2 separate regions of the Homo sapiens genome follow, and region 2 is reported to be linked to region 1. Evidence: microRNA targets listed by miRTarBase, many of them from high-throughput screens and not tested one by one. Region 1 holds a microRNA gene; the other region holds the end of a gene's coding sequence.
Evidence for each region. Region 1 holds the annotated microRNA hsa-miR-6844 (UUCUUUGUUUUUAAUUCACAG, at 1,862-1,882, shown strand). A microRNA usually pairs through its seed, bases 2 to 8, with sites in the 3' UTR of a target mRNA and lowers its output. Matches are read on the target gene's strand: a 7mer-m8 pairs with bases 2 to 8, a 7mer-A1 pairs with bases 2 to 7 and ends in A, and an 8mer does both.

Region 1 (4,541 bases):
CGTGGAGCAGTGCACACAATGAAGAGTACCGCCTGCTGTGTGTAGTCAGAGCCAAATATATTAGTAAAGTTGACATAATGACTAGTGCACACTTAACTGCTGACATTTGGTTTACTTTAGAGGTTATGGAAATAGTGACTGGTTATATTATCAAAATCTCTTTTTGTCCAAGTTGTCGTTAATATTTCCTACACTGCAAAATTTCAGCACTTTGTTAATGAAAGGAAAATATTTTTGCTTATTCTAACCCAGCAGAATCTGAAAAGGAGATTTTAAAACCCAAACATTTGGTAATACAGACATAGACGACCTATTTTAGGAAGACTATTTCTATTTTTTTAATTTTTAATTTTTTTTTTTTTTTTTGAGACAGAATGTTGCTCTCTCACCCAGGCTGGAGTGCAGTGGTACAATCTCAGCTCACTGCAACCTCTGACCCTGGGTTCAAGAGATTCTCATGCCTGCCGAATAGCTGGGATTACAGGCATGTGCCAACATGCCGGCTAATTTTTGTATATTTAGTAGAGACGAGGTTTCACCATGCTGGCCAGGCTGGTCTTGAACTCCTGCCCTTGAGTGATCCACCCGCCTTGGCCTCCCAAAGTGCTGGCATTACAGGTGTGAGCCACCACGCCCGGCCTGAAGACTGCTTCTTAAGAAGTACATTTCTATTTCTAATTTTAAAATTTAGCATTTTCAAGAGAGCAAAGGGGGTAAAATAGTCCTGCACATCAGGAAATATGATATAGAAAAATATAGCAAGAGAGGCTTAAGTTAAACAGAGAAATTGTTTCCCCAAATTAAAGTGCTTAGAAGAGGTAAGCACATTTAAGAAAATAATAAGCCACCTGTTATCCTGATTCAGTTGAACCTACCATTTGTGAGAACAAGGGGGAGCACTGTGTTGAAGTGAAAAGACAAACAGAATGAACATTCGTTGTATCCTCTGAATATTGTCATTATACTCCGGGACCAGAAGGAAGCTTCTTGAAAACGTAACAGGTTTTTGTCGTTTAGGCTGGGACTTGGAATTAGAGCAGTGAAGTTCTGTTCCAAGTTGGCCATGCCAGGTATTGTTATCTTGGACAAAGTACTACACCTCTCTGACACCAGCTTTTATACTCAGGTTATTTTGAGGATCAAATGAGACAATGGTATCTGGTACTTGGAAAAACCTTCTTATCAAGTACTCTTTAAGATATTCAGGGCTACCACTTTATCATGTAATTTTCTTTTTTTAATAGCATAATTGAGTTATTTGCTGTTTAGCAAATACTTAGATTTCATTTTTGAGGGAAACCTTGTTCATTTTGCCCAGTGGCAATAACTTCTTTTATAACAGCACATAAAAAACTGGTTGCAAAATGGAATAGATTAGCATGCAGTATGAAGCTCTCCTGGGCTTCTCGCTTGGTGAGTTGACTCCCACTGATGGTGCTCCCAGTGGCAAGGGGCCAGTGGTGTTACTTTCTGAAAATTAAAGGGCCCAGATAATTTTGTAAGCCCAGAAAATGAAGTATTTCTTTCCAGAAGTTGTAAGTTATAAAAGCCCTTTGATAAGCCTGATGTGCTTTAAATATTCATGATTTTTGTCCTGTAATTTCTAGAGAATTAAATACCTTTAATTTAAAAGCTCTTTTGACATCATTACCTTCCTCATGCTAAAATACAATTTGTAATGAGAATTTTTTTTTTTTGCATTATGCAGATATTTTGAAAAACAGTTTGAACTGTCAGAACAAACAAAATTACCAATGTTTCTTCATTGTCGAAACTCACATGCTGAATTTTTGGGTGAGTTAAAACCAAAGTCTCATTCAGAACTTAAGAATTTTGTAGAAATCAAGCTATTTGCTAAAAGTTCTTTGTTTTTAATTCACAGACATAATGAAAAGAAATAGAGATCGGTGTGTAGGGGGAGTGGTAAGTATAAAATAGTCATTTTTAATACAGGTTGAACATCTCTAATCCAAAAATCCAAAATACTCCCAAGTACAAAATGCTCCAAAATCTGAACCTTTTTAAGCACTGGCATGAGATAATGACACCTTTGCTTTCTGATTATTCATTGTACACAAATTTTGTTTCACGCACAAAATTATTTAAAATATTTACCTTCAGGGTGTGGTATAAGGTGTATGTGAAACATAAATGAATTTCATGTTTAGACTTGAGTCCCTTCCCAAAGATTTCTTTTTATGTATATGCAGATATTCCAAAATCTGAAAAAATCTGAAATATGAAACACTTTTGGTCCCACACACTTGGGATAAGGGATACTTAACATTTATGTGACACACAAAGCATCTTGGTTATTAAGGATGGCCCCTAATTCAGATGTCAACATTTAAATTTTTTTTAAAAAGGAATAACAAAGAAAAACATAGGAATTAGATAGAATTCAATAGAATTAGGAGCTTCTTTTCCCATCCTTTGAAAGACATGTAAATTTACTGTTGAATTTATGGACCAGGTGTGGCATAAACACAAATCAGTTTTAATTACAGTTCCTTTGTTCAAAGTACAAGAATGCGTACAGAATTCCATTCACAAGAAAACCCTGTGAAATTTTTTTTGTTTTTTGTGTGTGTTTTTTGTTTTTTTTTTTTTTTGGTTATTAAGAAAGGGTCTGGCTCTGTCATCCAGGCTGAAGTGCAGTGGCACAATCTCAGCTCACTGCAACCTCTGCTTCCCCGGGATCAAGCCATCCTCAGCCTCCCAAGTAGCTGGGACTACAGGCATGTGCCACCATGGCCAGCTAATTTTTTTGTATATTTTGTAGAGATGAAGTTTTACTATGTTGCCTAGGCTGATCTCGAACTCCTAAACTCAAGCAATCTGCCCACCCTGGCTTCCCAAAGTGTTGGGATTACAGGTGTGAGCCACTGTGCCTGGCCCTTGAATTCTACACATCCTAATGCTGTGCATGATATTCTTCGTCTCTTCTGTCAGCTGTTCTTTAATGTTCTTCCATCCAAATTTTGAGCAAATATAAACTAATTTTTATGTTTTGAAATATTTTACCATTTGTTTTAGGTTTGCCTTTCTCATTTCTTGTCCGCTGTATTCACCTACTATTCTGATCTAGAGAGTCATTCTCCTTTCTGTAATTTGCATTCTGCACTAAACACTTCTCTGATATAGCCATTTTAGTCATTATTCTGGAGACATTTCCCATAAATACTATCTGCTAACCACATACCTCCGATATCTATGGCAGTGATTTTTTTTTTTTTGAGATGGAGTCTCGCTCTGTCACCAGGCTGGAGTGGAGTGGCACAATCTCAGCTCACTGCAACCTCCGTCACCTGGGTTCAAGCAATTCTCCTGCCTCAGCCTCCCAAGTACCTGGGACTACAGGTGCACACCACCACGTCCAGCTAATTTTTGTATTTTTAGTAGAGACGGGGTTTCACCATGTTGGCCAGGATGGTCTCGATCTCTTGACCTCATGATCCTCCCCCCATCAGCCTCCCAAAGTGCTAGGATTACAGGCATGAGCCACCTTGCCCAGCCATGATTTTTAGTCTCTTCGATCATGGACTCCTTTGGAAACCTGCCTTAGAAAAATGCTCAGATATACATATATTCATATGCAATTTCAGGAGAGTGACTCAGTGAGTGACTGTGTCTAGCAAAAGAACTGTAATCCAGGTAGATTAAATCACAGTTACACTATGCCTGCTAAGGAAAGAGGAAATAGCACCAAGCACTTGCATTCCCATGCGGCCTGACGTTGACAGTTTTATGCGTATTCTCTAAGTTCAACCTCTGCCTCATCTATACTACTAGTAATATGTATGCATCCTGCATTGCTGTAATGTTAATATTACTGTGCACTTTTTTCCTGTTTGTACTAACTCTGTAATTTTTTCCTGTTTTTACTTACTCTGTAATTTATCCTGTAGGAACTGTACTTAAGAATTGAGAGGGGTTTTAGTTTTAACTAATGCCGTTGGGATTATTAGTGGTATTTATCCTAACCTTCAGACTCTACCTCTCAGCCCATTTGCTTTATTTCTTTTCTTTTTTTCTTTTTCTTTTTTTTTTTTTTTTTTTTTTGAGACAGAGCCTTGCTCTGTCACCCAGGCTGGAGTGCAATAGCACGATCTTGGCTCACCACAACTTCTGTCTTCCAAGTTCAAGCAATTCTTTTGCCTCAGCCTCCCGAGTAGCTGGGGCTACAGGCACGCACCACCACGCCTGGCTAATTTTTGTATTTTCAGTAGAGACAGGGTTTCATCATGTTGGCCAGGTGGGTCTTGAACTCCTGACCTCAAGCGATCCACCTGCCTCGGCCTCCCAAAGTGCTGGGATTACAGATGGGAGCCACTGTGCCCAGCCTATTTCTAAATAAGAATTTACTTGGGTTCTATTAATAGTTTTTAAAATTAACAAAAGCAACAACAAATCCAACCTAAATGTTTGACTTTTACCAAAAAAGAAATTGCCAAATAATTAATAACTAGTTTTCTGAAATGGTTTATGAGGAGTCACTTTTAAAATGATTTCGATATTAATGGAGGGCATCTTTTCTAGTC
Region 2 (4,000 bases), not on the chromosome of region 1:
AAGTTTACTGTCACTAGTAGAAATATTGCAGTACCTCTTTGTGAAATGAACAAGATTTATTCCTATTATTCTGATTCCTCCAGCAGTGAAAGGACTATGGATCTGGTTTTGGAAATGTGCAATACCAATTCCATCCACTGGTGTGGAATTTCAGGAAGACAGCTGGGAAAGCTGCATCCAAGTTCTTCGCTCTGTCTTGCCCTTACTCTGCTTTCTTCAGTACAGGGACTGCAAGTATGCTGTCTTTTCAAAAATTCCAATATTTGGGTGCTGTTAACTTACAAGTCATTTGTGATGTCTGTATTTCCTCTGAATGAATGAAAACTTAGACTCATCTCTCTCTCTCTCAATAGAGCATCTCTGGCTTAAGACTAACAGACACATTCTTAAAGAGAACATATGAATATGATGACATCGCACAAGTCTGTGTGGTATCTTCTGCCATTAAAGTGGAAAGCTGAAGGAAACTTCCAATGTTAGGCTTTTCATTTAGTTTCACAGAACTGCTCTTTTTGTTACCTTTGTAAAATGATGACGTCAACAACGAAGTAAATATGTTACTTAAATTTTCTTTCCTGTAAAATGGTTAAAATATTAAATATTTGTTTTGAAGAGATCTGATTTTATCTTGTAATTTATATTTGAAATGAACATGTGTATATTTTCTACACCTATTATTTAATTTCATTTCATTTTAGATGACCATTGGACTTTGTTCTCCAAAAGCTGTGTATCTGAGACCATTTGTCCCTAGCAAGTTATCTAGAACACGAGTCAGCACACTTTTTATGTAAGGTACAAGATACTAAATATTTTAGGCTTTGCAGGCCGTAAGGTTTCTGTCACAAATACTGAACTCTGCCATCGTACTTCAAGAGCAGCCAGTAGGCAAAAAAAGTACAGTGGTGTACACAAAAAGAAGCAGTTGGACTCGGGAAGCTGAGGCAGGAGAATCACTTGAACCGGGGAGGCAGAGGTTGCAGTTAAGCCGAGATCATGCTACTGCACTCTAGCCTGAGCGACAGAGTGAGACTCTGTCTCAAAAAAAAAGAGGCAGCTGGGCAGATTTGGCCTGCAGGGTATAGTTGGCTGACCTCAATCTAGAAGATAGAGTTGTTTCTTAGAACTTTGTAATATTTTGGTTAGAAATATTTCAGTTAACTCCAGTTTTTTCCTAGCTATTCGGTCAGCAGAAAAAGTTTGCTTAAAACAAAGGGGGTAGTCCTCTTATAACCTGATATTTGTCAACACAGTATAAGCTTTCTAGTTGTTTTCAAAATTACTGTAATGGTTTGTGTCTGTATTTGTATATTATACCTACAAACATACATATCTTTCAGCTACTGAACACATCAGAATTGGTTTTACTTTTTAGGTTGTTGATTTTTTTTAATTAACTATTAACTAAGAATAATACTTATTTTCTAATTATAAGCCAAAAACCCCTGGGTTTTTTTCTCATTGATTAAGCCACTTATTTTTATAAGGTATATTTAAATAATTCCCATCTTCTGATATGATTTTAAACTCTAAATCATGTGTTACTGTTACAAAACTTTCTCTCTCCATGTAATCACACTTAGTTATGAGCAAAGCAGTGAGAAAGTTGAGGTGATAAACAACTTTGCAGCATTAATGTAACAAAAAGTTTCAGTATTTGTCAGGAAAACAAAAGCTTAGGCTGTTAAATAAAAGCTATTCTATTTTGGTAAGTTGAAATTCAAGAATGTATATATAATTTCTTAAATGTAAGAGTGCATTAAATCAAATACAAAAATTGGTTTTTCAATGCATCATTATTTATTGCCATAACAAATTGTTTGGTCCAAAATGAAAGCTATATTCAGAAGGTTTGCACCTCAAAATTGAGTAATAATTAATGAAATGTCTGTACAAAATAAAGTGCAAGCAGTGTAAAATTGAAGTCTGTCTTTGTTTCAAAATGATTAAGATTAAATGATGAAATAATATTTTATAGCCACTGCATTGGATACTTGGATTGTTTTTCAAGCATCTTCTTATGACTAAATCTTCTGTTTCATTCTGTTTTAAATCTAAAAAGTAAAATGATGGTCACTTGGAATCTGCTCTATATTTTAATTATAGTCTCTTCTGTTTATAAACAATAACTTACACATATTTTTCATAGTTTTAAGTAAAGATTAAATAATGCCATCTTAGAAAGGATCTGTTTAACCTATATTATAAAAGTTAGATACACAATTTGGTACATTAAATGAAAATGTCATTTGCATATATAGAACCTGTTCTGTTTTACACAGTATCATAATAGCTACAGCTACTACAAGAAATATGGTTAATGGAAGTCAAACATTTAGTACGATGCTTAAAGAGTTACTTTAATAATGCCCTCTTATTTTTCTAGTTAGATAGCAACTATATTTCCCAGACAAGCAAGAAAATATATGGGGCATTTTTTATAAATTTAAAAGTAGCTAGCACAATCCAACCACGCAACTTTTTTTGAAATAGCTTGCAATGCTATGATTCCAAAGTGATCAAGGTACTTGAAGAGCAAAAATGGCTTGAATAGAATGGAAATGTAGGCAAGTGGACAGATAGCATCTAGATTGAATTTGTTACAGGTGGTATATTAGCAAAGAAATAGAAAAATGAAATGGAAGAAATATACCAATTCCCATTATTTCATGTAAAAAGAATGGCTAATTTAACTACAGATGTTAGCACATGAAGACATTGTTTTAAAGTTTTTTTTCTTATAGTATCTTTGTCTGGGTAATACTGGTCAAATAAAATGAGTTGGGAAGTATTTCCTCCTCTTCTGTTTCCTGGAAGAGATTGTTTAGAATTGATATTATTTCTCCCTTAAGTGTTTGGTAAAATTCATCACGGAAGTTATCTGGGCCTGTAGTTTTCTTTACTGGAAGGTTTTTAACTTAACCACAAACTCAATTTCCTTAATAAATATGGTTCTGTTTAGGTTATCTGTTTCTACAGTGAGCTTTCTAGTTTGTATCCTATAGGGAATCTGTTTCATCTAAGTTGTTAAATATACAATCCTTGAGTTGGTCATGGTGTTTTCTAGTTAGCCTTTTAATAACTATAGTGTCTGTAGTGTATTCCCTTTCATTTCTGACACTGAATTTGTATCTTCTGTTTTTCTAGGCAGTCAGCTAGAAGCTTATCTTATTGCTCTAAAAGCATTTTTAATGCACTCAAGATAGTTATGCTAGAAACTTTAACTTCTTATTCAACACTGAATATGAGTGACTAATTTTTAATTAAGGATCTATTTTGCTTTTTATATCACAGTAATGACTTCTATGTGTTAGTAGTAGTACTTCGTTCTGTGTAATACTGGAATACTAGGAGTTCATTCTAACTTAATGAAAATCAAAGTTGGCTTAGATGGAATATGAATTTAACTTCTGAGGGCCGAAGACTTAAATTGTGCTCTTTTTAAATTCTGCAGAACTATATATCTTCATACAGATCTTCGTTGTAGCTTTGTTTGGCCCAGGTGCTTAGGTGTTTGCAGGTCTGAGAAACCTCTAACCTAGTGTTCCTCTAAATTAGAGTCCTTGGATCTGTATCAAAACCACCTAGTGTACTGTTTAAAAATGGCCATTCCTAGGCCTTATTACAGGACCTACTGTATCAGAATTGAACACGTGGCCCTGAATCTGCATCTTTAATGAATTATCCAGGTGATTCTTACAATGAAGTTATAGAACTACTGTTCTAATGTCACAAAGGAGAAAGAGAAAAGTTGGATTTTAAACTTCAAGATACAAAATAATTAGTCTCTTAGTCTCTTTTTCTTTTTTTTTTTTTTTTTGAAATGGAGTCTTGCTCTGTCACCCAGGCTGGAGTGCAGTGGCGCAATCTTGGCTCACTGCAACCTCTGCCTCTCAGGTTCGAGCAATTCTCATGCTTCAGCCTCCCAAGTAGCTGGGACTACGGGTGCCCGCCACCAAGCCAGGCTAATTTTTGTATTTTCAGTAGAGGTGGGTTTCAC

Region 2: miRTarBase lists TRAPPC13 as a target of hsa-miR-6844. The part of its 3' UTR that is shown has no 7-base or 8-base seed match.

The regions. Positions count from the first base shown.
Region 1 is chr8:124,505,856-124,510,396 of GRCh38, reverse strand. MIR6844 (microRNA 6844) reads left to right here and starts at 1,821; the gene lies at 1,821-1,882. TATDN1 (TatD DNase domain containing 1) reads left to right here. Exons shown (of 12, transcript NM_032026.4): 7 at 1,709-1,794; 8 at 1,883-1,923.
Region 2 is chr5:65,664,151-65,668,150 of GRCh38, forward strand. It overlaps TRAPPC13 (trafficking protein particle complex subunit 13), which reads left to right. Exons shown (of 13, transcript NM_024941.4): 12 at 87-234; 13 at 354-2,083. The coding sequence ends at 461. It overlaps SGTB (small glutamine rich tetratricopeptide repeat co-chaperone beta), which reads right to left. Exons shown (of 11, transcript NM_019072.3): 11 at 1,778-4,000. Among named protein-coding and RNA genes, the nearest start is that of TRAPPC13, 41 kb to the left of the region's middle.